Homo sapiens: one gene and its partners. The protein of the gene in region 1 purifies or fractionates together with the protein of each later gene. This does not show direct contact. Each region holds a gene or a part of one and is shown in the gene's direction. Other genes may lie near its edges. The genes, in order: SF3B2, SF3B6, SNRPA1 and RBM17.

Region 1 (7,552 bases):
TTCTCCATGACAGACCTTCAGGTATTTGGAAGCAGTAACCCTGTCTCCTCTGGGTGGGCACTCGGCCAGGCTAAACATTCCAGGTCCTGAGAGAGGGTGCTGCTCGGACACTGTGGGAGGCCTGCCTTCCCTTGGCAATTTGACTCCAAGATGCCTGTTTTGGAGATGGGGCCAAGGCAGTGCCTCTCAGGGAGGGGGCCACTGGGCTGGGTTTCCATCGGATTTTCTGGCTGGTGTGGGGTGCATGATGGTGCTGCTGGAGCTGTGCTTTAGAGCAGTGGCCCTGGCTCCTGCCCTCAGATGCTTCACACGACTCCCCATTGTGCCTGGTGTCTTCTCCATAGAGAGAGTTCTCCCAGCTATCCCAGGCAGGTCAGGACGCCCAGGCTCATCAGAATGTCAGTGCTAATTTTAGTCAGAACAATCTACCTCACGCTGCTGCCCAGTTTTGCAAATTGCTAGCTTTTCTCCAGGGAACCAAAGAAATAGTAGAGCCGACCAAAGCTTTGAAAATGGGCCGGGGTGCCCACCCTCCTAAAGGAGCCCTTTCTCCTCTGTCTCCTCTGAGCTCTAGAGCTGAAACCGATGCACTTAGAGGAAGGGGTGCCCTGGACTGGACCACTTGGACCTGACTGCTGGATGGCCCGGAGACTCCATCCTGTCCTGACTTGAGGGATGGGACAGCCCAGTGTTGAGGGACGCTGACCCAGGGTGCTCCAGAGGAGGGGCGAAGGGCTGAGGGGGTCTGCAAAGTACTGGCCTGGGAGAGCAAATCTTTCCACCTCCCTCTTTTTCCTCCTCCCCCACCCCCCAGCCTGCACCAGGTCTGCCCCTGGCCCCCCAGCCTCCTCTCTCTCTCATCCACCCCCGCATCATCCCTGCCTTGGAATTCCCTCCATCCTCCTGTCTCCATTACTGCCCACCCGCACCATACCTCCCACTCCCTCAATTTCATCCCAGCATCCCCCAGGGATCCTGCCAGTGGGATCTGATCACCATAGGGGATAGGCCAGATTGGCCCGCTCACCCTATCTTCTCCCACTTTCCAGGGGTAGAGCGCCCCCCTCCTCATGCTTTCCAACCACTAGGCCCCCAAGACACTCTCCCGCCCGCCTCTCGGCCCCCATCCCGGTCTGGTCCACTCCCACCCCTCCAACCCCATGCCGGCCACTGCAGTACTCACACCGCACGCCTGGGCTCTGCCTCTGGCCCGGGTTGGGGGCGGCCGCCGCTATCTCTGGACCCTTGTCTCGAAATCCGCACGGGGTCCGAGGGTGCCCGGGGCCCTGCGCGCCGAGTGCCGGTGGCTTGCCTCTCAGCGCCTGGATGGGATCAGGTGGCAGCGTCCGCTAGGCTCGCTCCTCCCGGCTCTGCCCGCCCCCCGCCCCCCGCCCCCCATCGCACACCGGAGGAAGGCGAGGGGCGGGGCCAGGCCACGAGCAAGTAGGGGAGAGGGGAGAGAGGGGAAAGGAAGGGGGACGGGGGAGGGGGGGTGGTTCCCTGGCTTGCCCGCTGGCTGCCGTGAACAGTCTCTGGGTGGCATCTTCAGATGCAGTTGTCTTACTCTGGCAACCTTGCAGAGTTGGACACTAATGTGGCCAGCTCCCTTCTCTCACTCAGGCAGGGAAACTGAGGCCGGGAAGGTGTCTGGATACTCCTGCATTGCTGGGTATTCTGGGGCACCGCCGGTCATACGTGGGCTTCTGGGTGAGCCAGATGCTGGTACACGTGCAGGTACTCACATCCTCTGTCCTCCTCCAGTAGAGAAGCAGTGCTCCAGCCTTGTCTGGTCCCATCTCTGCCCACATGCCCCCTTCCCTTCCAGCGTGTCCCCCATACCCTCTGATGTAGCTTCTGGCTGCTCACCCATTTTTCCTCACTAGGACTCCAGACCCACTCACTCCTGACCAGAGCTATAGTGAGGCTGGGACCCCTGCCTAGGCACCTGCCACCAGGCATCAAAGAACCCAAGTTCAATCCTGGTTTGCTCTTAAATCCCAGAGTCAAGAGGCAACTCCCTAAGCCCTATTGCTTCCAGCTGTAAAATGGGAAGCTGTTCTGAGGTAGCAGAGATAATACACACGAAGGCTCCATGTGAACTTCTTAGTCCTCAGCTCCCATCACCTGGGAGCTGGGCAGCAGCACCTCCCAAAGCCATGCCAGACATCAAGAGCCCTACACTGAGTTCTGTGGCTGGCCTGCACACCTGCTTTCTATTTTGCTCTGGGCCTGGTAAAGCAAGGATCCTGGAGCTGGGTAGCCACCCAAAGGTGGGACTGGAAGGGGCTGGATACGCCCTTCTAGGCCCACATAGGAAATAGTGTGAGGGTCCTTGTTATGGTTGAGGAGGAGGAAATAGGGACTCTCAGAGTCAGAAGGACTGCTGGTGGCCCCAGTTTGGCCTCTTGGGCATGTCACCTTCTCTGCCCATCAATCTTCCGCTGTGTACAATATCGTGGGGGAGGAGGATCTTGAGACCTTGCCTCCTTCCCAGGGCTGTTATAAAATGAGACTCCAGGCCGGGTGCAGTGGCTCACGCCTGTAATCCCAGCACTTTGGGAGGCTGAGGCGGGCGGATCACGAGGTCAGGAGATCGAGACCATCCTGGCTAACGCGGTGAAACCCCGTCTCTACTAAAAAAAATACAAATAAATTAGCTGGGCGTGGTGGCGGGCGCCTGTAGTCGCAGCTACTCGGGAGGCTGAGGCAGGAGAATGGCGTGAACCCAGGAGGCGGAGCTTGCAGTGAGCGCAGATAGAGCCACTGCACTCCAGCCTGGGCAACTGAGACTCTGTCTCAAAAAAAAAAAAAAATAAATAAATAAATAAAAAATAAATAAATAAAATGAGACTCCATCAGCCTTTAGTTTATCCTGCCTCAGAGACCCCGCCCCCTTCCCTAGCACCTACACATGCCTTGGGGCCCTCAGCCTCAGATGACCTGCCCTGGGCTCTCCAGTTACAGGGAGCAGAAGAGCCTTCCTTTGGGCTAGAAAGGTTCTGCCTGAGTGGGCTGACAAGCTGGAGGGAAGGGCGCTGTTTTTCTGTCTTCGTTACTGTCCTTTCCGGGTTTGGCTTCTCCTCTGGGAGTGTGGCTGCAGGAGCCTCCCATAGTGATATTGATGGAAAGGGGAAAGGTCAAGGTTTGGGTAGGAGGAAGAGGACTTCCCACCCAGTGCTAGGATGTGAGCCAACCTTTCTCAACCCAGTCCTTTTCCCTGTCTCTCCCAAACCTCACCTTCCCCCGACCTGGTGCCCCATTCTTTTTTTTTCCCTGTTCCCAGCTTCTTCTCCACTGGGGGCAGTTGGCAAAATGGAGCTGGAGAAAAGATCTGAAGGGGATGTGTAGGGGGAAAATGAGACCATTTCACTTGAGTCTCCCCACTCCCTTTCTCAACACACATAAAAAACACACACAGGCTAGCTGTTGGTGAGAGGGCAGAGCTAGTGGCAGAGGTGGGGAGAGAAACTGAATTGATGGTGTGGGACAGGGAGAGGTGGATGCTAGGCAGGCAAGAATCCCTGCCAGTCTCTGCCTCTGTCTCCAAAGGCCAAGGGGAGTTGGGGTGGGGAGTGGGAGGCAAGGTGGGGCCCCCAGTGCAGGTGCGGCTGAGGGAAAAGGGCCTGAGTTTATTTTTGAGACTAAAAAAGACACAAATGCTTTCACCAGAAACATTGTTCCTTTTTTTCCAGTAATCATTTATTGGGCGCCTCTTGAACGCCAGGCGATGCGAGACTGAAAATGATCAAGTCCCTGCTCACATTTTTGGGATAGAGGTAGGAAGAAAGGGCAAGAAAGACTTAACAAACGGTGGAGATTCGAACGTATTATGGGAGCTCTAAGAAAGGAAAGGAAAGCGGGAGGAGGCTTAGTGGAGAAGACGACATTTGAGCCGGCCTGGAAGGTGGAAAAGGGGGCTTTAGAGTCGCCCTTCCCCCAGGTCGGCAGCTGGAGCTCAGCCCGGGCAGGCCTGCTGCTCTCCCGGCTTGGATCCCCTTTCAGCCCATTCATCCGGGCCTGGGCCGGGGGTGGGCGGGCAGACAATCAGACACTGTTTTATCCCAGGCATCGGCTCCAGCCTCCCGCTTGGCGCCCGCAACGCGGGGCCGCCGGGGAAATGAGTCTCTCGGGACTCCCTGGGAGCGTAAGCGTTCGAGGATCTGACCGGAGGGCCGGGCCGGAAAGCTTGAGAGCCTTCGCTCCCGCAGGTGAGGCGCAGAAAACACTCCCTCGGGGAAGTGCCAGCCCTCCTCGCAGCCCCGCCCTCCGGCCCGCCGCCGGCCTTCGGGGCCGTAGCGGCGCGCAGGGCCCGCAGAGACCGAGACCTGCGCACTACAACTCCCAGGAGGCCTCGCGACCAGACCGCCGAGGGGCCACTAGAGAAAGGTGCGTCTGCGGCGAATCCCGTCGCCCAGCGCACGGCAGCGGGTGTGCCTGAGTGCGCGTCGCCTCCCAACCAGAGAGGACGTGGCATACGGCGCCACCGGAAGTTCCGGCAAGTGGGCCCTGAGGCTGGCCCCAGCTTCCGGGTTGGTCGCGCGCCTTCCTGCGGCTAAGATGGCGACGGAGCATCCCGAGCCTCCCAAAGCAGAATTGCAGCTGCCGCCGCCGCCACCTCCAGGCCACTATGGCGCCTGGGCTGCCCAGGAGCTTCAGGCCAAGTTGGCAGAGATCGGAGCTCCGATCCAGGGTGAGGAACACAGGAAGTCGAGGGGCCTTTACGGGCCTGCGGAGAAGCGGAGCCTGGTTACCCGGGAGACTCGGGTGCGAGGGGCGGAGGCAGGCCGCTGGGGCCTGACCTGGCCGGGCTGGCCTGCCCCATTGATCGTGTACTTTGCCCTGCAGGTAATCGCGAGGAGCTGGTGGAGCGGCTGCAGAGCTACACCCGCCAGGTAGGTGTTGGCGGCGGGACGTCAGGATAGGCCGAGCTTCTCCAGGAGACCTTATATACCCCATCACGGCTCGGTCTTCATTCTTTCTTTATCTCGGCACAGCAAGGCGGAGGCTTGCCCTTTTTAGCTTGTTCTTGCCTTTGCCAGCTTAGTTGTAATTTCTTGTATCCATCTTGGTCCTCTTCAGTGCCCAGCCAGAGCGCTGGCAGACAGGCACTGGGTACGTTTTGTTGAATGAATTGGGAGCGAACGTCGTTTAGTGAAACAGCTAGTTTTGGACTGACCTAGAGTCCTTTCTCTTTTGCAGACTGGCATCGTGCTGAATCGGCCGGTTTTGAGAGGGGAAGATGGGGACAAAGCCGCTCCACCTCCCATGTCGGCACAGGTAGGGAGATTCTTCTGTTTTTTAAGATTCCATCTGCTGATCCTTTTGTAGTTCATGAGCATGATGATTGGGTGTTCACGTGCATGTGTGAGATGTGACACCCTTGCACATTACTCGCCTGACCTGAGTGGGGAAAAAAAAAGATTCCATATGTTCAGGGTAGCCCTTCCTCTCACTTGCAGTTGTTGGGCAGGGAGGTACTGCCATGACAGAATTGTGAGCTCTTCAGTTCTCTCTTTGATGCTGACACTTGCCTCCTTTTCCACTGTCTGCTTCTCCAAAAGCAGCTTGTGGCCGGGTGCAGTGGCGCATGCCTGTAATCCCACCACTTCGGGATGCTTAGATGGGACGATCGCTTGAAGCCAGGAGTTCGAGACCAGCCTGGGCAACATAGTGAGACTCTGTTACTACAAAAAATTTTAAAAATTAGCTGGGCACGGTGGCACGCGCCTATAAAGTCCCTATAAAGAGGCTCAAGGATTGCTGGAGCCCTGGGGTTGGAGGCTGCAGTGAGCTCTGGTTGCGCCACTGTACTCCATGTACTCCATCCTGGGTGACAGAATGAGACTTTGCTTCTTTAAAAAAAAAAGGGGGGAGGTGATGGGGGAGGGGCTGGGAGAGTGTCAGAAAAAATAGCTAATGCATGCCAGGCTTAATACTTAGGCAGTGGGTTGATAGGTGCAGCAAACCACCATAGCACACATTTACCTATGTAACAAACCTGCGCATACTGCACATGTACCCGAAAACTTACAATAAAATAAAATTAAACCAAAAAATAGGAAAAAAAAAAAAGAGGCAGGGCGTGGTGGCTCATGTCTGTAATCCCAGCACTTTGAGAGGCCAAGGCAGGTGGATCGCCTGCGGTCAGGAGTTTGAAACTAGCCTGGCCAACATGGCGAAACTCTCTCTACTAAAAATACAAAAATTAGCTGGGCGTGGTAGCACATGTCTGTAATCCCAGCTACTTGGGAGGCTGAGGCAGGAGAATCACTTGAACCCTGGAGGTGGACGGTGCAGTGAGCCAAGATCAAGCCCCTGCACTCCAGCCTGGGCAATAGAGCGAGACTGTCTCAAAAAAAAAAAAAAGAGGCAGGGCATGGTGGCTCATGCCTGTAATCCCAGCACTTTGGGAGGCTGAGGTGGGCGATCACTTGAGGTCACGAGTTCAAGACCAACCTGGCCAACATGGTGAAACCTTGTCTCTACTAAAAATATAAAAATTAGCCGGGCATGGTGGCAGGTGCCTGTAATCCCAGCTACTTGGGAGGCTGAGGCACGAGAATTGCTTGAACCTGGAAAGCGGAGGTTGCAGTGAGCTGAGATTGCGCCATTGCACTCCAGCCTGGGTGACAGAGCGAGACTCTTGTCTCAAAAAAAAAAAAAAAATACAGCTTGAATACAAGGAAGACTGACTTGTCCTTACCCAGCTGGAAGCAATCACCCTTTTCTTTGCCTGCCCCAGGCACAGTTCCCATGTTCTTTTGTGTGACATCGAGGGCTCCCTGATTTGATTTCACACCCCTTGCGTTTAGTAGTCATTGGGGTTTGCATTGCCCAGATACAGTGGTTCCTGTTTATGTAAGTCCTCTCAATTTCCATGTTCCTTCTGATCCAGGATTTGCCTCATTTTCTCTAAAGCAGTGGCTCTGACCTGGCATCTACTGATCTCTGTGTGTAGGATGAGGAGTCCCTAGATGGCCTCAGAGGCGTCTTTGAGTCTCCTAGAATTGTATGCAGAATCTATATTCAGGATATCTTTTTGGAGAGAGTGGATAGCTTCCTTTGGTTGGTGCCAGAAGTTAACATTCTCATATCTTTATAGAGCTGTGGAGCATTCTCTCTTATGGAGTGGTAACTATGTATCATTTGACTTAGAATTCCAGCTCCTGACTCAAAGTAGATCCCCCAGATATTTGCAGAATGAGTAGATAAATGCTTCCTAGTTTTATGATCATATTTTCTCCACAGCTCCCTGGAATTCCCATGCCACCACCACCTTTGGGACTCCCCCCTCTGCAGCCTCCTCCGCCACCCCCACCACCTCCACCAGGCCTTGGCCTTGGCTTTCCTATGGCCCACCCACCAAATTTGGGGCCCCCGCCTCCTCTCCGTGTGGGTGAGCCAGTGGCACTGTCAGAGGAGGAGCGGCTGAAGTTGGCTCAGCAGCAGGCGGCATTGCTGATGCAGCAGGAGGAGCGTGCCAAGCAGGTAGGGCAGGTGGCAGCCCTGGCCTTGGACTCATTAGGTCCCTGAAGGGGCAGTGGAGCCTTAG
Region 2 (7,936 bases), on another chromosome or scaffold:
TTTCTCCAAAGAACAAGATGGTTTGTATTTGAGTCACAGCGTCCCACCCCCACCAGCCCACCCCCACCCCACCAAATAAAAAAGGAAAAGCAAAAGATTGATTTGGCATTTGGTGCAACGGCCAGGTGATCTTGATAGAATATGCCTGTGTGGGGAATGTGTAGCAGTTGCAAAGTAAAGAGAACCCTGTACTTTCTGTCACAGGAAATGTTCAGGCTGGAGACTATGTGCTAATCCATGCAGGACTGAGTGGTGTGGGCACAGCTGCTATCCAACTCACCCGGATGGCTGGAGCTATTCCTCTGGTCACAGCTGGCTCCCAGAAGAAGCTTCAAATGGCAGAAAAGCTTGGAGCAGCTGCTGGATTCAATTACAAAAAAGAGGATTTCTCTGAAGCAACGCTGAAATTCACCAAAGGTAAACAACTGCTTCTACAGTTCAGCAGGAATTTAAGAGATGATTAAATAAAAGCCCCACCAGTCTCAAAGTTGCCAGTGCTGTGTATCAGTCTTACCTCTGCTAAGTGCACAACAGCTGCCCTGGCCAAATTCTAGTACTATGGTATTTGACCACTGGAGACAGGCAGTCATATTTAAATCTAAGATGGTTTCCATGTGCATTCTTGCAAGAGATAAGATTCATCCACACTTTAGACCATGCAGACTTGGTCTGGAATTATCCAGCACCTTTTCTTCCCAACCAGCCATTCCACACTTAGTTAACAGGAGGCTTGGAGGCAGAGACCAGTTTGGAGCCAGCCATGGTAGGGTTGGGTGGTAGCACCCTAAATGAGTAAGTAGATGTGCACACCTCTGTATTCCAAAGCCAGACGTGTCTATTTTTGGCTCATCCCTTTCCGTTTCTCTTTCTTTTTTTTTTTTGAGATGGAGTCTCACTCTGTCACTGAGGATGGCGTGCAGTGGCTTGATCTCGGCTCGCTGCAACCTCCGCCTCCCAGGTTCAAGTGATTCTCCAGCCTTAGCCTCCTGAGTAGCTGAGATCACAGGCGCACCACCACGCCCAGCTAATTTTTGTATTTTTAGTAGAGACGGGCTTTCACTATGTTGGCCAGGCTGGTCTCGAACTCCTGACCTCAGGTGATCCACCTGCCTCAGCCTCCCAAAGTACTGGGATTACAGGCATGAGCCACCATGCCTGGCCTCCATTTTTTATGTGAGTAGAAAAGGAGAGATGAAACCAAAGCTAGAAAGCCTATGATTCCAATAACCTAGTGCGGACACTTCCTAACTTCTATGTGAACAACTAGCCTAGGTTGGGCCTCCTGTATTCTGTTCTCAATCGTGCCTGGGTGTCAGTGGGACTGTACTTATTTTGGCATGACAGGAGACGCTAGGTCATGGTGCCCCATTTCCCTCTTGCTGTAGCTAGGCCTCATAAATGGTGAACTTCATACATGCTATCATAGAGTTCTGCTATCTAAACTCCATTTACAACAGTTCTTCAAGCAGTGTTTCTAATTCCAACCTATAGATTTACCACTTGCATCTGTATTTATATCCATAATCCCCAAATATACCATGGTATCTTATTTAGCACCAAGCTGACTAGCATCACAAATCTGTTTCCTATGGAAGGTGCTGGAGTTAATCTTATTCTAGACTGCATAGGCGGATCCTACTGGGAGAAGAACGTCAACTGCCTGGCTCTTGATGGTCGATGGGTTCTCTATGGTCTGATGGGAGGAGGTGACATCAATGGGCCCCTGTTTTCAAAGCTACTTTTTAAGCGAGGAAGTCTGATCACCAGTTTGCTGAGGTCTAGGGACAATAAGGTGAGTGATGAATGAAAAGAAAACATGTGATTTAACCCAGAAAAGTGTGGTTCATTTACATTACCCCGAGAAAGGAAGCTCTACCTTAGATTACGGAGGTTAGTTTCTATGAAGAAACCTCCCCCTCTGAAGATAAAGAGGGAACCCGATTTCAGAGAACTGATTCAGATTGGTTGATAGAAGCTTCAGTATCATGAAAAGAAGTGTAGCTGATACTTCACAGGTTATCTGAACATTCTAACAGAATGAAGAAAGCACTGACTATATTAGGAAGTATTTCGAGTAGTTCCAAGACTTTGTTTTCAAAGGCAGAATTCATCTCAGTGTGCTAGAAAGTCTCTTAGGTGAGTAAAAAAATAAGTAAGCCTTGGCCTTCAACAGATTATAGGTTCCATGCCGGGCACAGTGGCACTTGCTTGTAGTCCCAGCTACTTGGAAGGCTGAGGCAGAGGATTGCTTGAGTCCAGGAGTTTCAAGGCTGCAGTGAGCTATGATTGCACCTGTGCATAGCCACTGTACCCCAGCCTGAGCAACATAGCAAAACCTCATCTCAAAAAAAAAAAGATTATATGCTCCTGAAATATTCCATCTGGCAGTCTAGCAGGTACCACCTTTGGGAATGTTTCCACCATAGGGTTTTGCACCAGCTGAGGGACAGGAGAGCTTAAGCATCCTTTTTTCACTAAGCCTATATGAGTCCTATCTGTGGCTGCCTCCTGGGTAAAGACACTTTATTTAAAAACAATTCTTAGGCTGTCAGTGACACTAACATTTTACTCCAGGCTTCAGTCTTTATCTGGTACAGAACAGAAGTTACACATTTGGAGGTACAAGGGAGCCAGAGATCACCTGTAACCCCCCTTTAGCTCCTATGTGGTCTCTTCAGCTGGCTCTAGAAACCAAATTGATACCAGCAGATTGACAGGAGAAAAGCATGTACTTTTTTTTTTTTTTTTTTTTTTTATGGAGACAGGGTCTTACTCTGTCACCCAGGCTGGAGTGCAATGGCACAATCAGCCTCCTGGGTAGCTAAGACTGAAGGCATACCACCATGCCTGGCTTGTATTTTTTATAGAGACAGGTTTTCACCATGTTGCCCAGGCTGATCTCAAACTCCCAGGCTCAAGTGATTCGGCCAAAGTAAGATGCTTTTGTAATTTTTAGACAAAGAACAATAAATTTGAGAAGAAATAAGACAAAATCTGGCTAGGGATAGTAAATTTCTAGGGAAGTCACTAGGAGATATATGGGGGTGGGGGGTGTAAAACTAGTGGAAGATAAGGGTTACTTCCTTAAGTGTATTTATTCAGTTCCATTGCAGCCCCGTTTCCAGTCTCTGGTGATAAGGGCTTTTTGCCCTAGTATGGGGAGGGTACCCCTCTCAGAGGAATCTTTATGACTTGCTACATGCAAGAAGAGACAGGTCAGCTAGCCTTTTCTGAAACTACAATTTCTCCAATGCTTTCACCTCAAAATTAACAATATACCTATCGGACATATTCTGAGATGGCACATGACTCCTTCAAGGGTATTTCACACACATGCTAGGAAGTGAGGGGTTAAGTGTCCCTGTGTGCTTTTTCAGATACGTGGCTTCAGAGAGAGCAAGAAGGCTGAGGAGGATGAGGAGGGCAGGGTGAGGCTCTCTCCCCAGGCTGATGATCTCCTTTCCCTTGTCTTAGTACAAGCAAATGCTGGTGAATGCTTTCACGGAGCAAATTCTGCCTCACTTCTCCACGGAGGGCCCCCAACGTCTGCTGCCGGTTCTGGACAGAATCTACCCAGTGACCGAAATCCAGGAGGCCCATAAGTACATGGAGGCCAACAAGAACATAGGCAAGATCGTCCTGGAACTGCCCCAGTGAAGGAGGATGGGGCAGGACAGGACGCGGCCACCCCAGGCCTTTCCAGAGCAAACCTGGAGAAGATTCACAATAGACAGGCCAAGAAACCCGGTGCTTCCTCCAGAGCCGTTTAAAGCTGATATGAGGAAATAAAGAGTGAACTGGAAGGGTGGCACGCGGACTGGGGCCGCCGCGGCGGGGTTGAGGTGGGAGTCCGGACGGGCGTCGCAGCGGGGATTACTGAGGCCCGATCAGCTGACGCTCAACCTGAGGGCCCCTCCAGGGACGGAGATTCTGGGTATAGTTACAGCGTCAGCCGTGACACAAGCCGCCAGAACCCCACATATTCCGCCTTGCGCACAGCTAGAGGCCCAGGCCCACCACCTCCGGCACCTGCCCGCGCGCCCCGCAACCAGTGGGCACCACAGCAGGCCCCAGCCCTGCCCGCTACTCACCTGGGCCCCACCCCACCTCTCGCCGCCCTCCTCAGGCCCCACCACCTCCCGCTACACATCTGAGCCCCGCCCCACCTCCACCACTTTCCTCAGCCCCAACCACCTCCTGCTACACTTCTGGGCCCCGCCGCACCTCCACCACCCTCCTCAGGCCCCGATCCCTTCCGCTACTCACCTGGGTCCCGCCCCAGCTCAGTCCTCCTCAGGCCCCGCCTTCGCCCGCTACTCACCTGGGCCCCACCCCACCTCTCGCCACCCTCCTCAGGCCCCACCACCTCCCGCTACACATCTGGGCCCCGCCCCACCGCCACCACCCTCCTCAGGCCCCGCCCCTTCCATTACTCACTTGGGTCCCGCCCCAGCTCACCGCCTTGCTCAGGCCCGGCTCCCTCCCGGATACTCACTTGGGCCCCACCCCAGCTCTCCGCACCCTCCTCAGGCCCCGCCCCCTCCCGCTACTCACCTGGGTCCCGCCCTACCTGTCATAACCCTGCTCAAGCCCCGCCTCCTCCGCTCCCCAGTTACTCACCTGAGACCCGCCCCAGCTCTCCGCCCTCCTCAGGCCCCGCCCTCTCCACCCGGGTTCCTCTGCTCAGGGCCTCCCCGACCGGAACATCTCGCCTTTTGGAGGCTACGCCCCGCCCTTTACGGTACAGAGCCCGGAAGTGTCTTGGACTCTCGCCTTTCCATCTTCCGGCCTCGAGTCTCGCTCAGGCTCGGTTTTACCCCGGAGTCTATTCGAAGGGGGCTGCTACGTCAGCGCGTCTCAGCGTAAGACGGCGCTATTCCGCTGTAACAGCTTCCGGCGGGTCCTGGATGTTGATGTCCTGCATCTAACGCGGTGTAACCCCCGAAGCCGAGCGAGCTCCGGAGGAATTTCAGTATCTGCTACGGTAACTTCATCAGCCCGCCAAGATGGCGATGCAAGCGGCCAAGAGGGCGAACGTGAGTATCGGGTGTTCTGCGGAGGGTGGGAGAACTTCGGGTTTGACTTTCTTAGCGGCGTGGATCGGAGCATTCTTGCTCCTCCTCCGTCCCCAGAGCGGAGAACTCCAGAATTCCTATCCTGTCAGCGAAGACACTATCCGGCCCCATCCTCAGAGATATGCTCCTTGAGCCACATTTCTGTCCCCACCCCTTTTGAGAGTTCCTCAGTCTCTACCCTAGTGTCAGTGATAGTGTTACCCCTATAGCCTCTTTGCTTGACCCGCACCTAAGGACCTGGCGTTAGGATTATCTCCTTGACTTAAAGTCGATATCTCAGAAGAGTCCTCAACTAACTTAATGGTTCACCAACAACTAGGACCTGGGATTCCCCTCAGATCATGGTGCTTTTCGGATCCTTCATTAACACATTAATTAAAACAATATTTTTTGAGCACCTACTATGTATTCTGCTTGCCATGTGGGACATAATTCATCAATTATATTTATTGAATAGCTACTATGTGCCAGACACTAGTCTTACGTATTGGGAATACAGCAGTGAATAAAACAAGTCCTTCTGCTTACATTCTAGTGTTTGAGAGTACAGTGTTACGGAAACTTTTAAAAAAAAAAAACTCAAAAAAGAGATTAGTCAACAGTAAAACGCTTAGAGGTGTAAGATGAAGTTAGGCCGAGTGAGGTGGCTCATGCCTGTAATCCCCGCACTTTTGGAGGCTGAGGTGGGAGGATTGCTTGAGCCCAGGAATTCAAGGCTGCCTTGAGCCATGATTGTGCCACTGCGCAGCACTTCAGCCCAGGAGACAGAGCAAGACCCTGACTCAAAAAAAAAAAAAAAAACAGAAAGAAAGAAAGAAAGAAAGAAAAGACAAGCAATTGACCATTGTATATGTAAATGGAGACTTTTGGTGACCTTGATGATAGGAATCATTTCAGTGGATGAAAACTTGATTGCAGTGGGGTGAAAAGATGGTGGAAGTTGAGAAAATGGAAACAGCAAAGACACTCTGTCCATGAGTTCTCATTTAAATAGGAAGTAGGGAAATTGGATGATAGTTGACTTTTTTTTTTGAGATGGACTCTCACTCTGTCACCCAGGCTGGAGTGCAGTGGCACAGTCTTGGCTCACTGCAACCTCTGTCTCCTGAGTTCAAGCAATTCTCCTGCCTCAGCCTCTTGAGTAGCTGGGATTACAGGTGCCCACCACCATGCCCGGCTAATTTTTGTATTTTTAGTAGAGACAGGGTTTCTCCGTGTTGGCCAGGCTGGTCTCAAACTCCTGACCTCAAGTGATCCACCTGCCTTGGCCTCCCAAAACGCTGGGATTACAGGCATGAGCCACCGCACCCGGCCAGATAGTTGACTTTTTAAAAGATGTGTGATATAGGTGTATCTTTATGCCAATGGGAGCAATCCAGCAGAGTGTGCGAAACATGATATGGAAGAAAGATAGGTTGAGTTTAGAAGTGAAGGTTTTGAGTAGATGAAGGTTGGCGTAGTAATAGAGGGAAAGTAGTTGGATATAGATGAAAAGTATTTCAATTGGTCATGTCTATTTTCTCCAAGAAACAAGAATCAGGGTCATCTCCTGGGATGGGCAGGGAAGAGGGTACAGCCCAACTCAGGTGTTAGCAGGAGTGATGGTGGTAAGGTTTGCAAAGGCCTACACCCACCACCATGCCTGGCTAATTTTTTAAAATTTTTGTAGAGATGGGGGTCTCACTATGTTGTCCAGGCTGGTCTCAAACTCCTGGGCTCAAGTGATCCTCCCACTTTGCCTCCCAAAGTGCTGGGATTATAGGGACCAGCCACTGCACCCAGCCTCTGTTGCTTTTTCAAAGATCTGCCCATTTTCAGAAACATCAAATTATACCTCTTATTCTTGGCTTTTTATTATTACGTATCATTAAGAATTTTTTAAAATGCCCCTAATTATAGGGGCATTTAAATTATAATTTTTTAGAATGCCCCTAATTATAATAACAATACGTATTTCTCATTTTAGATTCGACTTCCACCTGAAGTAAATCGGATATTGTATATAAGAAATTTGCCATACAAAATCACAGCTGAAGAAATGTATGATATATTTGGGAAATATGGACCTATTCGTCAAATCAGAGTGTGAGTCTTACTGAGTCATTTAAAGAAAATGATAGCATAATCTGTAATTTCAGAATTATAGCTGACGATGAGGCCACCCTGTGCTGTGTGCAGTGCGACAACCCTTACCAAGAGCCTTGAGACTAGCAGATTGAGATCAGAGAGATGAGATCTTTTTGAAGGGGGGAGAAAACCTACTGAGACCCTAATGATCCAGCTCAATGAGAGCCAAGAAGAGGATTTGAGTTTCCTCAAAGCATTCATTGAAGTAGTAATGAATGCTTTGAGGAAACTGGTTGAGAAGGGAAAGAACTAACATTTATTGCATACCTGTTATTTGTAAAGCTAGCTTGTTACACTGTGTTTTTTGTATGCAGCAGCTCTATAATTTTCTCAACAATCATCACTGTCTCTTTAAATAACCCCAGAATTTCTGAATAAACTAAGTAAAAGAGTATAAAAGTAACAGAAAAAAATGATATTTTCAACTACAGCTCTTTCAATTGAAGATGTAAAAGTATAGAGGAAAACATCTAATTACAAGCATTCACGTTTTAATTTAATATAAAGATTGGGGTTCATACCTTCAAGTGATATTTACTGGACATCTACTGAATACCATTAACCATAATAAGTGCTTTTATTTGGATCAACAAAACTATAGCCCTGAGAGTAAAGTACCTTTCTATCTTACAGTGCTTAGTGGTAAAATCTTCTGACTCTAAATTGAACCTCTACATTACACAGTACCATAGCCTCTGACACCCGAACTCATATGAAAGGGCTAGTGACTTAAG
Region 3 (6,989 bases), on another chromosome or scaffold:
CTTTTTTTTTTTTTTTTTTTTTTTTTTTTGAGACCGAGTCTCACTCTGTTGCCCAGGCTGGAGTGCAATGGCATGATCTTCACTCACTGCAACCTCCGCCTCCCTGATTCAAGTGATTCTCGTGCCTCAGCCTCCCAAGTAGCTGGGATTACAGGTACGTGCCACCACACCCGGCTAATTTTTGTATTTTTAGTAGAGGCGGGGTTTCACCATGTTGGCCAGGCTGGTCTCAAACTCCTGACCTCAGGTGACCCACCCACCTCAGCCTCCCATAGTGCTGGGATTACAGGCGTGAGCCACCACGCCCAGCCAACTATCATTATTCTCAAATAGCATGGTTATGTATGTAGAAAATCCACAAGAATGGTTACAGATAAACTTAAGTAAATTTCACAAGATCGCTGGATGTAACGCCAATATACAAAAATCTGCTGTATTTAAATATATCAAACTAATGATTAGAAAATGGAGTTTTTAAACAAAAGGTACTATTTACAGTAGCATCAAAATCTATCAAATATCTAGACAATCTAGTAAAGGATATACAAGGCCTTGACACAAAATCTGCAGGATGCTGCTGAAATTAAAGAGTGCCTCAATAAATGTAGGGCTATAATATGCCCATTGATTGGAATACTTCATATTGTAAAGATATTAATTCTCTCCAAATTCTTCTACAGATCCAACACACTACAAATCAAATCATGGGTGCTTTTTCACATATATCTATAATTTATGTTCACATGCAAAGGATTAGAATAATCAGATAACTACTAGATAATCTGAGAAAAAAATGGGAGCTTTTTTTGAGGGACAAATACCAAGTCTTTTTCTAAAGCTTGTATTCTGCAAGGATAGCTGACTAAACCCATGGAAAAGAACAGCTAGTTCAGAAGCAGAGGCCCTCACATATTTGGACACTTGATTTTTGAAAAGAGCTGCTCTGCAGAGCAGTGGGGGAGAAGATGGTCTTTTCAATAAATGGTGCTGGGTCCACCAAATATCCATATGGGGAAAAATATATCTTCTTCCCTACCTTAGACTATGCACAAAAATCTAGGCCAGAGAGACTGCAGATCTAAATGGACAAGGTGGAAGAAGAAAGCTTTTAGAAGAAAATATAATTTTGGAGTAGGCAAAAGTTTCTCACAGCGTACTCGAAAACTATTAGCTGTATAGGGAACGGTTCATAAATCAGACTGTATTAAAATGAAGAACCTCTATTCATCAAAAGATACCATTAAGAGAGTGAAAACCCAAGCCACAGGGGGAAGATACTCACTACAGACATAGCTCACAAGGTTCCTATTGAAAAAATATAAAGAGCTCCTACAAATCAGTTTAAAAATAAAGCCCAATAGAAAAATGGGCAAAACACCTAAGCAGACACTTCATTAAAGAGGTTATCCAAACAAACATAAATATATTTTTTAAAGTTCTCAATTGTGTTAGTAATTAGGGAAATACAGTTAAAACCACAATTTCATACCATTACCTATCTACCAGAATGGCTAAGATTAAAAAGACAATACTAAACGTTAGCAAGGAGTTTAAGTTGGCAACCACTTTGGAAAACTATGTCCTACTTAAGCTGAACATAAGTAAGCCCTATGACCCAGTAATTCCATCCCTGGGAGTATATCAGTATATGTGTTCACATAAAGATATATATTATTGAGTTTGTAGGTACACTATTTATAATATAAAAGAGTGAAAATTACCCAAATGTTCATCAACAGCAGAATGGATAAGTAAATTGTAAAACATCCACAATGAAATACCATATTACAGTGAGAATAGATTAACTACATCTACACACAAACATAATGTTTAGCAAAAAATATGCAAGGTACTTCATTTGCATAAATACAAAACTAGATAAAGCAAATCTATACAAGATGGCAGGATAATGGTTACCCTTGGGGCAAGGGTGGTGACTAGATGAAGACAGGAGGAGGGCTTCTGGAATGTGGCAATGTCCTGTTCTTACGAGGATGCTAGTTGGTTGGGTGTGTTCAGTTTGCATTCTTCTATATGTATATCATACTTCAATAAAAGTTCAAGGAGAATCATCTCCGGGTGGATTGCAGAACTAAATGTGAAAAGCAAAACAATCGTCTAGTAGACCACATAGGAAAATATGATGGGGGTAAGGGAAGATTTCCTAAGGCACATGCACATGCACACACACCCAATCCACTAACCTAAAGAAAATAATTGAACTACATAAAACTTGGAAACTTCTCAGCCAGGCGAGGCGGCTCACGCCTGTAATCCCAGCACTGTGGGAGTCTGAGGCAGGTGGATCACTTGAGCTCAGGAGTTGGAGACCAGCCTGGGCCACATATCAAAACCTTGTCTCTACAAAAAATACAAAAGTTAGCCAGGCCTGTTGACCTGTGCCTATAGTCCCGGCTATTTGGGAGGCTGAGGTGGGAGGATCTCTTGAGCCTGAGAGGTCAAGGCTGCAGTGAGTCCTGATGGCACCACTGCACTCCGGCCTAGGTGACAGAGTGAGACCCTGTCTAAAAAAAAAAAAAAAAAAAAAAAAAAAAAATCTAATCATCAACACCATTAAGAGTGAAAAGGCAAGCCACAGAGTGTGTTCATATCCCTAATATATAAAGAAATTCCACAAATCAATAAGAAAAAAGGCAGACAACTCCATAAGGAAAAAAAAAAAATGAGCCAGGGACTCGAAAGAACACTTAACCAAGGAAGCTATCAGAATGGGCACCATACACATGAGAAGGTTCTCAGCTTCATTAGTTATTAGAGAAAAGCAAAGCAAAGCAGTAGTGCAATACCACCACACACCCATCAGAATAGCTGAAGTTATAGAGTTAAAATGCCAAGAAGGCTGAAGCTGGAAGCCATGAAAACCCTTACACACCGCTGGAGTGTGTATATTATTTCAGCCTCTTAGCATAACTGTTGGGCATTACTTATTGATGATAGATATACCCTATGTCCCAGCAGTCCCACTCCAGGACAAACTCATGCAAACGTGCATCAGAACCACGTACCAGAAAATTCATAGTAGCATTACTCAGAATAGCCCTAACTGAAAACAACTTTGATGTCTATCAACAGCAGAATAAGTAATTTATGGTATAATATATACAATGGAATTCTCTTCAGCAGCAAAAGCAAACAAACCATCTCTGTATGCAACCTGGATGGACTCCAGACATAATATAGACTCCATGAAACTAGGCCAAAAAAAAAAGCATACTGCATGATTCTATTTATAGCAAAAGCAAGCAAACCGAATTTGTAGTGTTGAGTTCGCGGTTGCCTTTTGGGAAAGAGGGAGGCTTTCAGAATAGCGGTGTTTTGGATCCCGGTGTCGGCTACGCAGCTGTGTTCACTCTGGTCATTAATCACTGTAAATTCCTGATATGCACACTTTTATGTATATCACATTTCATACATATGAATATTCAGAAGTCTAAAGGTCACAAGCTTAACCGCAAACCCTACCGTGCCCGAGGCCGGGCTGGACTTGCGGGGCGGTGGGGTTGTCCCGGCGACCTGCCCCAGGCGGGCCACCTAGCCCGGGATCTCACACTGTAGCCCGGAGCCAAGGCCCAGGCCCGGGGCGGGCACCTGAACTGCTGGACCCTTCACTGAACCCCACGGGTTCCCGCGACGGCTGGTGGAGGGAGGACAGTCACCGCTTCCCCTCCCACCTCGAGGTGCGCTAATGCATGAGAAAGTTCCCCTCGGGTGTTTCCACATTCGCCTTAACTTTTAAACACCAACGTCTGGAATCAGGGGTCCTCCAGACTCCGAAACACACCCTAGGAAACAACCCAGAACGAGACACATCCCCTGTGCGCGCGCCACGACTTCCGGCAAGAACGCCCCCGGAGGCGTGGCTCTTCGATTGCTTCGGCCTGGCGGTCGAGCTGCGCGCGCACTCGGCGGCTGCGATTGGTGCTGCCTGGCGGCGGGGCGCGGGGCACGCTGGGACGTCTCGCTGGCGGGAGGCCACGGGCTTTCCACAGCGCGGGGGAACGGGAGGCTGCAGGATGGTCAAGCTGACGGCGGAGCTGATCGAGCAGGCGGCGCAGTACACCAACGCGGTGCGCGACCGGGAGCTGGACCTCCGGGGTGAGTCCGGGGGCGTGGGCGGCCAGTCCCCAGGCGGCACCGAGCCGCCTTATTTTCCGCGCTTTGCCGCGTGCACCGAAGGCCGGAGCTTGGCCCGCGGGCCGGTTGTCTGGGCTCCGACCGGGCTGCGCAGGGAACGCCGGGCCTGATTCTTGCCGTTGTTGCCAGATGAGCATCCGGTTAAGCTCCTGGGAGCCTTCTGTTAGCGCCGTGCCTCTTGACAGGCACGGGTGACTTCATTACTTCCTGGTGCGTCCTCGTGGGGCCCTGTTAGGCCTTGCTTGGCTGTTTCGCCGCTGGCTGTTTGAGGGCCCGGAAGAGCGGCTCATTAATGGTTGTAACGCAAGTGCAGGGCGCGGGATTGGTTCTTAATACTTGCCGCCAGATGATATTTTGAGCGTAGATAGGATATGTGTTCATTATTCCTAATGTGAGGGAGGAAACTAAGTCCCCGAACAACCGCGATTGTTTCCTCCAGTATTTTCTACTTAGTAGCTTTAATTGTCTGGCGTTTCCCCTATATGAAGACGTTTTAAAAATTGAACTGTGTCACCCAGGCTTGCACCGCCGGGTGCTGTGTGTAAGTTGTGGAAGCGCTCGCAATTATTCAGATTCCTGTACTATTTCAACCTTAGCAAGACTTGGTAAGATACTGGGAGGGCAGCTAGCTAGTTGGCATTTCAGGAGACGGCTTTAAAAGGGACGTGATAGAGCAACTTCTCTGAGGATAAGACCATGCTGTCGTAGCCTGAGATTTGTTCCCATGGGGACCTATGGCCTCGGAGCAGCATCGCTGCGGGATCTGCTTAGATTTCTTGCCGACCTTTGGGAAATCCCACTGTTTTGTGTTGTGTTGTGTTGAGATGGAGTCTCGCTCTTTCCGCCCCAGCTGGAGCGCAGTGGCGTGATCTCGGCTCACTGCAACCGCCGCCTCCCCGGTTCAGGTGATTCCTGTGTCTCAAGCCTCCCGAGTAGCTGGGAATACAGGCATGCGCCACCACGCCCGGCTAATTTTTTGTATTTTTAGTAAAGACATGGTTTCTCCATGTTGGTCAGGCTGGTCTCGAACTCCCGACCTCAGGTGATCCGCCCGCCTTGGTCTCCCGAAGTGCTGGGATTACAGGCTTGAGCCACTGCGCCCGGCCCAACTCACCACTTTTGATGATCTCTGCCATTTCTCTTTATGGAGCATGTGCAGTGTTGAGAATACGTATTTTGATGCAGTACGTGTAGTACAGCTCTGAATTGTGTCCTTTAACTTTGGGTAAGTTCTTTTTTTAGTAGACCTTGCTTCTTCGGAATATTTCTTTTCTTATAGTGCCTAACACAATAATTATGCCCAAATTAGACAAATTAACATTTGAGTGTTCACAGATTTATTACTGTATTTAAACCATTGATCTTCAATTCTGAATTGGAGCTGGGGGAGGGGAGGGAGAACTGTCGTGATATGTTGAGGCTGTTCTGATGGGTTCTAAGAATCTGGCCTGTGGAGATGCAAGAGTGGAGAACTGTCGTCCACAATGTTTGAACGCCGTTTGGGCACTGAGACTAAGCAGCTCCAAGTGTAAACTCCTGTTGTGCCGATTCCGCTTAACTAGCCCAAACGACTTAGGACAGTGTGAGGCACCTTGTAAATGTTCTTATAAATGTTAGCTGCCTATATCAGCCATTGTTATTGTCCTTGTCCTTGTTGTCATCAGATTCTAAGCTTCATGGCACTGGGGACTTGAGACTCGTTCAGCGTTTTCTCTCTAGTATCTTAAACAGCGGCAAGTCATGCGTGACCCGACATAGGTGCTAGGTAATACTTCCTGAATAAATCAAAGCCTGGAGTCAGATACTATGAAATACAGCTAATGCTTTAAGGGGCAACTGTTTAGTTATATTAATACCTCTTGTGTTTTTTTCCTCCATTTTATAGGGTATAAAATTCCCGTCATTGAAAATCTAGGTGCTACGTTAGACCAGTTTGATGCTATTGATTTTTCTGACAATGAGATCAGGAAACTGGATGGTTTTCCTTTGTTGAGAAGACTGAAAACATTGTTAGTGAACAACAACAGAATATGGTACGTGTCTGTAGGGGAAAGTAATTTTTTCCCCTAGAGTAAATGTTGCAGTGTTTCCTGAAGAAGTTGTAGCACGTGCTACTGGTTAAACCTACATGTTTCTTTTTCTTTTTCTTTTTCTTTTTTATTTATATTTTGAAAAAATATTTTTTCCATAATGGAAGCCACATTCAATACATGTTTTTTCTTAAAATGAGAAATGAACTTCACTTTTCCTATAGAGATCCAGAGATTAACCTGGCATTAGTCTAGTCTTACTTGTATCTGTTCAGAAATCATGTATTTTTATTTTCATGGTTAAGTTTCTAAATAAAAACATGTTGCTTTGTATACATTTTGGCTTCTAAAACAATTATCAAAGGGGTCATAGTAAAAGGATATATAAAGGTAACAATTATACTTTTGACTGAGCGTCTCTGCTTTTTTTTTTTTTTAACTGCAACTAATTTCTAGACTGTTACTTATTGAAATTGAGATCTTTTTTGACCCTGCCTTCATCAGCTCTGTGTAAACTTTATTGGAAAAAAAGCACTTGGTGTATAGATAATGTCTTTAAAGGTACTGGGTGGTGAGTGGGATTTCCTTCAGATAGAAATATTTCTCATAGGTTAACCATTCCCCTATAGTATAGTTGTTGTGTCTTGTACCTGAGCTGGGAATCCAGAATTATTTGTATTTCTGTGCTGCCTGCACAAAAAATCATGAAGTGAGTTAAGTAGTTTGTGCCACCCAGGAGTTGCACCTTTTCTCAGGTTCCACTAGATGGTATGACAGTGGAATTAGCCCCAGGCAGTGTCTAAA
Region 4 (4,941 bases), on another chromosome or scaffold:
GCAGCCCCGTTCATGCACAGCTTAGGATACATCACGAGCCTGACAGGTGAGTGCCAGAAACCAACAGTTGTCCCGACTTGTGAGGTTATCTGAAGTAAGGCAGCCGGTGGCTGGATTAGTAACTGCATATTCCCCTGGGCCCGTGACCTTGAACGTTTGCTCCAAGTCAACTCACCTATAGGAATTATCACTCACATGCCCTGTCAGCCCTTTGGGAAGTGAGATGAGCAAAAATTGCAAGTAATGGTGGAGGCTCAAAACATCCAGATGCTATTGTAAAAACATGCCAAAGCAAAGCAGAGGCTTTTATTGCAGATAAGGCTGTGTTTTCGCTCAGAGACCAATTGTGTAGATGCCTAGGACATAAATGGTGGGGATCGCTATTGAAATTAAATTAATTATTGTAAGTAGGACTCAGTTCTGTAACACATCTAATGATATGCTGCTCAGTTCTGTAACACATCTAATGGTATGTTTTGATACAGATGCATCCAAGAAGTCAGATTCAAATCCGCTGACTGAAATACTTAAGTGTCCTACTAAAGTGGTCTTACTAAGGGTAAGAAGCTGAGGAAAGCAAGCTCTCTGCCTGCCTAGATTTGTGTGTGTCACCCCAGCCTACCCTGCTCCCCCTAAAAGTTAAAACTGAAAATGATACTTTTGCAAATAATACTTTGGGCAGATCCCACGTAAGGCTGATTTTAGATTTTTCACTAATGTGTAAGTCTCTTTGCTAAGTACAGTGTTTAAGACTGCAGTGAGTAATTAAATATTTGAAATTGCTAGAGCTTCAGATAGTTTATACATTTTGGTGCTTGCATAGATGCTTTTGTAACTCTTTACAGGCTTAATATATGTTTTAGTGTTTTAAGAAATACTAACTTTTGGGTACTTTGGGGATGAAATTTTTCATTATGTCGTTTGGGATTGAGAACATTTACCATCACTAAGTCATATTTATATACCTCTGCTAGGTGTTTGTAAGTTATACTTGGTACTTGAATTTGTTTATTTTTGTGTTTAAAGAACATGGTTGGTGCGGGAGAGGTGGATGAAGACTTGGAAGTTGAAACCAAGGAAGAATGTGAAAAATATGGCAAAGTTGGAAAATGTGTGATATTTGAAGTAAGAGTGTTTTCTTTTGATGTTTATAACACAAGTTGTAATTGGCACATTACAAAACATTTTCTACAAACAGGACAGGGTATGCTATAAGTAACATTCTTACTGCAGAAGGTGACAGGCGTTGGTTATTTGTACTTCTCTTGCTCAATTATTACAGTTTTAAACATAAAGACAATGATTTCAAGTTTTATTTGATGAAGAAACAGGAATGCTTCATGATTGAGGATCAGTATGATGACTGAAGACCTTGATTCTAGCGTGCTCAGTAGTTTAGTTCCTTAGACATGCCTTTGGTTTCAGTCATTTGGTGAGTATTTAGTGCCTCTCACATGCACTGCACTGTGCGGAGAGCACTTGGATTACAGGAAGCATGCTCTGTACTCTCAGTGGTGTGTTCAGTTGAAGAAACACATAAAATAACTGAAAGATATTCAGTTACTAGACTAGGTAGTATTGACTAAGTTCAGGAGTTGAGAAAAGGATTAGATCAGTGAAAAAATAGACTGCCTTGTGAGCAATAGCAGATATGGGCTGCGCTTTGAAACGAACAGGTGGGATTTGCAGGGAAGGGTATTCTGATTGGGATAATGGCTCGTAGGAGACAGTGAAGATCAGGACTACCAAAATGGAATGGATGGGCCTGTTGGGGATTAGCAGAAGTGCTTAGGTGGGTGGAATTACAGAGGGCTAGGAAAGCTAGACAGAGCTAGTCAAAATGAGACCTGATGTGAAAGGCCACTAGGGCACCAGCCTTTTTAATCTGAAAGCTCTGCTTCCTCTGTTTCTTTATCCTGTTGCTGTTTGTTGACCACATAATTATTTGTTTACGTCATCAGCTGGCACAGGGCCTTTATGAGGTCAGAGACTGCCTAGCCCTGTGTTCCTGGCACCTAACAATGCCTGTCATAAAAACAGGCATTCAGTACGTTTTTGATGATGAACAAATTATACTTATTTCCTTGGTATTTGACAACTACTTGACTGTATATGATGATAATTAGAATATCCACTCTGAGAAATCATTTAAAAGAGAAAACTCATTCAATGCAATCTCAAATGCCTTTACTCATCACGCTCTCATTTTCTTCCAGATTCCTGGTGCCCCTGATGATGAAGCAGTACGGATATTTTTAGAATTTGAGAGAGTTGAATCAGCAATTAAAGGTTAGTGGTACAGCTAAATATTAAAGAATAAAAAAGTTGAATTTACAGCCTTAATCTTTACAAGTAAAGTTACTGTTTAATTAAAGTTAAACCTTTATCTTATAGGATACCTGTATTAACTGTCTTTTGTTTGCCTTTCAGCGGTTGTTGACTTGAATGGGAGGTATTTTGGTGGACGGGTGGTAAAAGCATGTTTCTACAATTTGGACAAATTCAGGGTCTTGGATTTGGCAGAACAAGTTTGATTTTAAGAACTAGAGCACGAGTCATCTCCGGTGATCCTTAAATGAACTGCAGGCTGAGAAAAGAAGGAAAAAGGTCACAGCCTCCATGGCTGTTGCATACCAAGACTCTTGGAAGGACTTCTAAGATATATGTTGATTGATCCCTTTTTTATTTTGTGGTTTTTTAATATAGTATAAAAATCCTTTTAAAAAAACAACAATCTGTGTGCCTCTCTGGTTGTTTCTCTTTTTTATTATTACTCCTGAGTTGATGACATTTTTTGTTAGATTTCATGGTAATTCTCAAGTGCTTCAATGATGCAGCATTTCTTGCACTAAAAAAAAAAAAAAAAAAAAAACTAGAAAGTTTTGGGACATGGGGTTATATTAAATTATTCTTTGTTTTTCTTTTTCTTTTAATAAAGCCTGCAAGTTACTAAATTGTAGTTTCATAAATTCTGTAGTAAAGTATCATCTTGGCAGTGTGCCAAAGGTGAAAATGATGCTTTCTCTAACAGAGAAATTCTTAGTGACTCCAGTCGTAGAAAAACGTCTTTACAACCTGAATAAGATTGAAGAATTGTGAACATACCATGGCCTATTGGATGAATCATTTGCCGTAGGCTAAATCAGACTGTAGGGTTTGTGATGGATTTATGGAGTATGTGGGTATAGAAATCATGAATCTAGCATTTGTTTTCAGAGATTCAAGCATAGTCTTAAGGGTAGATCAGAAATGACAAATGAATTCAAAACCTAGCAGGTGCATTGTAAATGTGTGCCCAGTTATGTTTTGGAAATGGCAGTTCCTTGGGGTCATGTTTCTACTGGCAAAATTTGCAATAGTGTTCTATTGTATGTAATTTTAAAATTTATAAGATTATCCACGTTGGCCAAGTAAACTGTACTGCCAATAGAATTCTGGAATTGTGAGAAATTGTATCATTGAAGTTCAGTAGGATGTGTGGCTTAAAAATTTATCAGGACCACAAAAAAGAAAACAAAAATATTTGGTACTGAGGTTCATTGCCAGGGCAGGAGGTATTTCCAGAAAATACTCATGCCTGTGTTCTGTTCCTTGCTTTCCCAAATACTGCATGTGACTTTCCTAAGCGGCAGCTGAAAGACTCGAGCCCGTGCTGTCTCCTTTGGTTATTATGACATGAAAGTGTATCAAGAACTCAGCATTTCTTTGCATCCATGGACTTGGTTTGGAGACATAAGGAATATTCTGACCCTTTTTAAAAAAGGATTTTCTCATGTTTTTATTTAACATAAATAAAAGAATAACATTTTATCTTTTGTGGTATTATTTTATTGAATAAAATTGAGTTTTATGATAAAAGTGCACCTGTTCTGTAAAGTAAGTTGGGGTTAAGGAATGTGAGGTAAATTACATAATTGAACATTGTGGAAGACAGAATCAAAAGCAGCCCTGGAACTTCAGTTATCTATGGAATTAGGCATACCATTCCTCAAGTGGAAACCATGTTTGTGCTTACAAGTACCGGAGTGTGCTTGTTTAATTTTAGAAACTAATGGTTCCAACCCACCTTTCATGCATGCATTTATTGTTGTTATGCTTTGTAAAACATTGTTTGCACCTAAATGGGTGGCTTTTCCTAACATTCTCATGGTCAGCAACCAGAGAGTTGCAACCAACTCATACTACTTGATTTCCGTTCGCATGAGGACAGCTTGGTGTGTGCCTTTCTCCCCAGTCTTTTATTTTTAAAATAACTGTGTTAATCAGTTAGTGCTTTATTTATAATGAATTTCTGATAGTCGAATAATTTCTAAATCTCCTGCAAGTTAGTACTTGAGAAATTTGAAATTAATTTTCAATATTAACATTTAAGCTAATATAAAAATTTTAAATTTCAATAAAAATTAAAAATTATGTAAGCTACAATGTAACTGGCAAGTTTCCGTGTAATAGACGTTTGTCATTCTTGGTGGCCCATCTGTGAGTTTTTGAAACCCCTTTTTCTTTTTTTTTCTTTTTTTTTTGAGACGGAGTCTTGCTCTGTCGCCCAGGCTGGAGTGCAGTGGCATGATCTGGGCTCACTGCAACCTCCGCCTTCTGGGTTCACGCCATTCTTCTGCCTCAGCCTCCCAAGTAGCTGGGACTACAGGCGCCCGCCACCACGCCCGGCTAATTTTTTGTATTTTTAATAGAGACGGGGTTTCTCCGTGTTAGCCAGGATGGTCTTGATCTCCTGACCCGTGATCCGCCTCAGCCTCCCCAAGTGCTGGGATTACAGGTGTGAGCCACCGAGCCCAGCCTGAAACGCCTTTTTCTGTGTGGGGAACTTCCTTGTTTCCCTCCTCCCCGCAAGAGACTAGAAACTTGCTTTCCCAGCCTGTCTTGCAGGTTGAGTAGGGTTGTGCGCTTGGGATCTCTGATCAGACCGGCACCGCAGTGTGG

The links.
Region 2: the proteins of SF3B2 (region 1) and SF3B6 fractionate together in Homo sapiens (co-fractionation; 5 studies listed by BioGRID and IntAct, with this or other methods). This does not show direct contact.
Region 3: the proteins of SF3B2 (region 1) and SNRPA1 purify together in Homo sapiens (affinity purification with mass spectrometry; 7 studies listed by BioGRID and IntAct, with this or other methods). This does not show direct contact.
Region 4: the proteins of SF3B2 (region 1) and RBM17 purify together in Homo sapiens (co-immunoprecipitation; 5 studies listed by BioGRID and IntAct, with this or other methods). This does not show direct contact.

Annotation. Positions count from the first base shown.
Region 1 is NC_000011.10:66,047,828-66,055,379, forward strand, and holds the start of SF3B2 (splicing factor 3B subunit 2), read left to right. Parts: upstream 1-4,536; 5' UTR 4,537-4,557; coding exon 4,558-4,690; intron 4,691-4,845; coding exon 4,846-4,892; intron 4,893-5,199; coding exon 5,200-5,277; intron 5,278-5,316; exon of another isoform or gene 5,317-5,401; intron 5,402-7,248; coding exon 7,249-7,488; intron 7,489-7,552. UniProt on the Homo sapiens protein: Component of the 17S U2 SnRNP complex of the spliceosome, a large ribonucleoprotein complex that removes introns from transcribed pre-mRNAs.
Region 2 is NC_000002.12:24,073,300-24,081,235, reverse strand, and holds the start of SF3B6 (splicing factor 3B subunit 6), read left to right. Parts: upstream 1-4,909; 5' UTR 4,910-5,006; coding exon 5,007-5,036; intron 5,037-7,041; coding exon 7,042-7,160; intron 7,161-7,936. Other genes in the region: TP53I3 (quinone oxidoreductase PIG3), read left to right, coding at 205-417, 1,596-1,792, 3,475-3,657.
Region 3 is NC_000015.10:101,292,224-101,299,212, reverse strand, and holds the start of SNRPA1 (U2 small nuclear ribonucleoprotein A'), read left to right. Parts: upstream 1-3,964; 5' UTR 3,965-4,034; coding exon 4,035-4,116; intron 4,117-6,040; coding exon 6,041-6,188; intron 6,189-6,989. UniProt on the Homo sapiens protein: Involved in pre-mRNA splicing as component of the spliceosome. Associated with sn-RNP U2, where it contributes to the binding of stem loop IV of U2 snRNA.
Region 4 is NC_000010.11:6,113,023-6,117,963, forward strand, and holds the end of RBM17 (splicing factor 45), read left to right. Parts: intron 1-485; coding exon 486-559; intron 560-1,026; coding exon 1,027-1,125; intron 1,126-2,216; coding exon 2,217-2,289; intron 2,290-2,430; coding exon 2,431-2,534; 3' UTR 2,535-4,425; downstream 4,426-4,941. UniProt on the Homo sapiens protein: Splice factor that binds to the single-stranded 3'AG at the exon/intron border and promotes its utilization in the second catalytic step. Involved in the regulation of alternative splicing and the utilization of cryptic splice sites.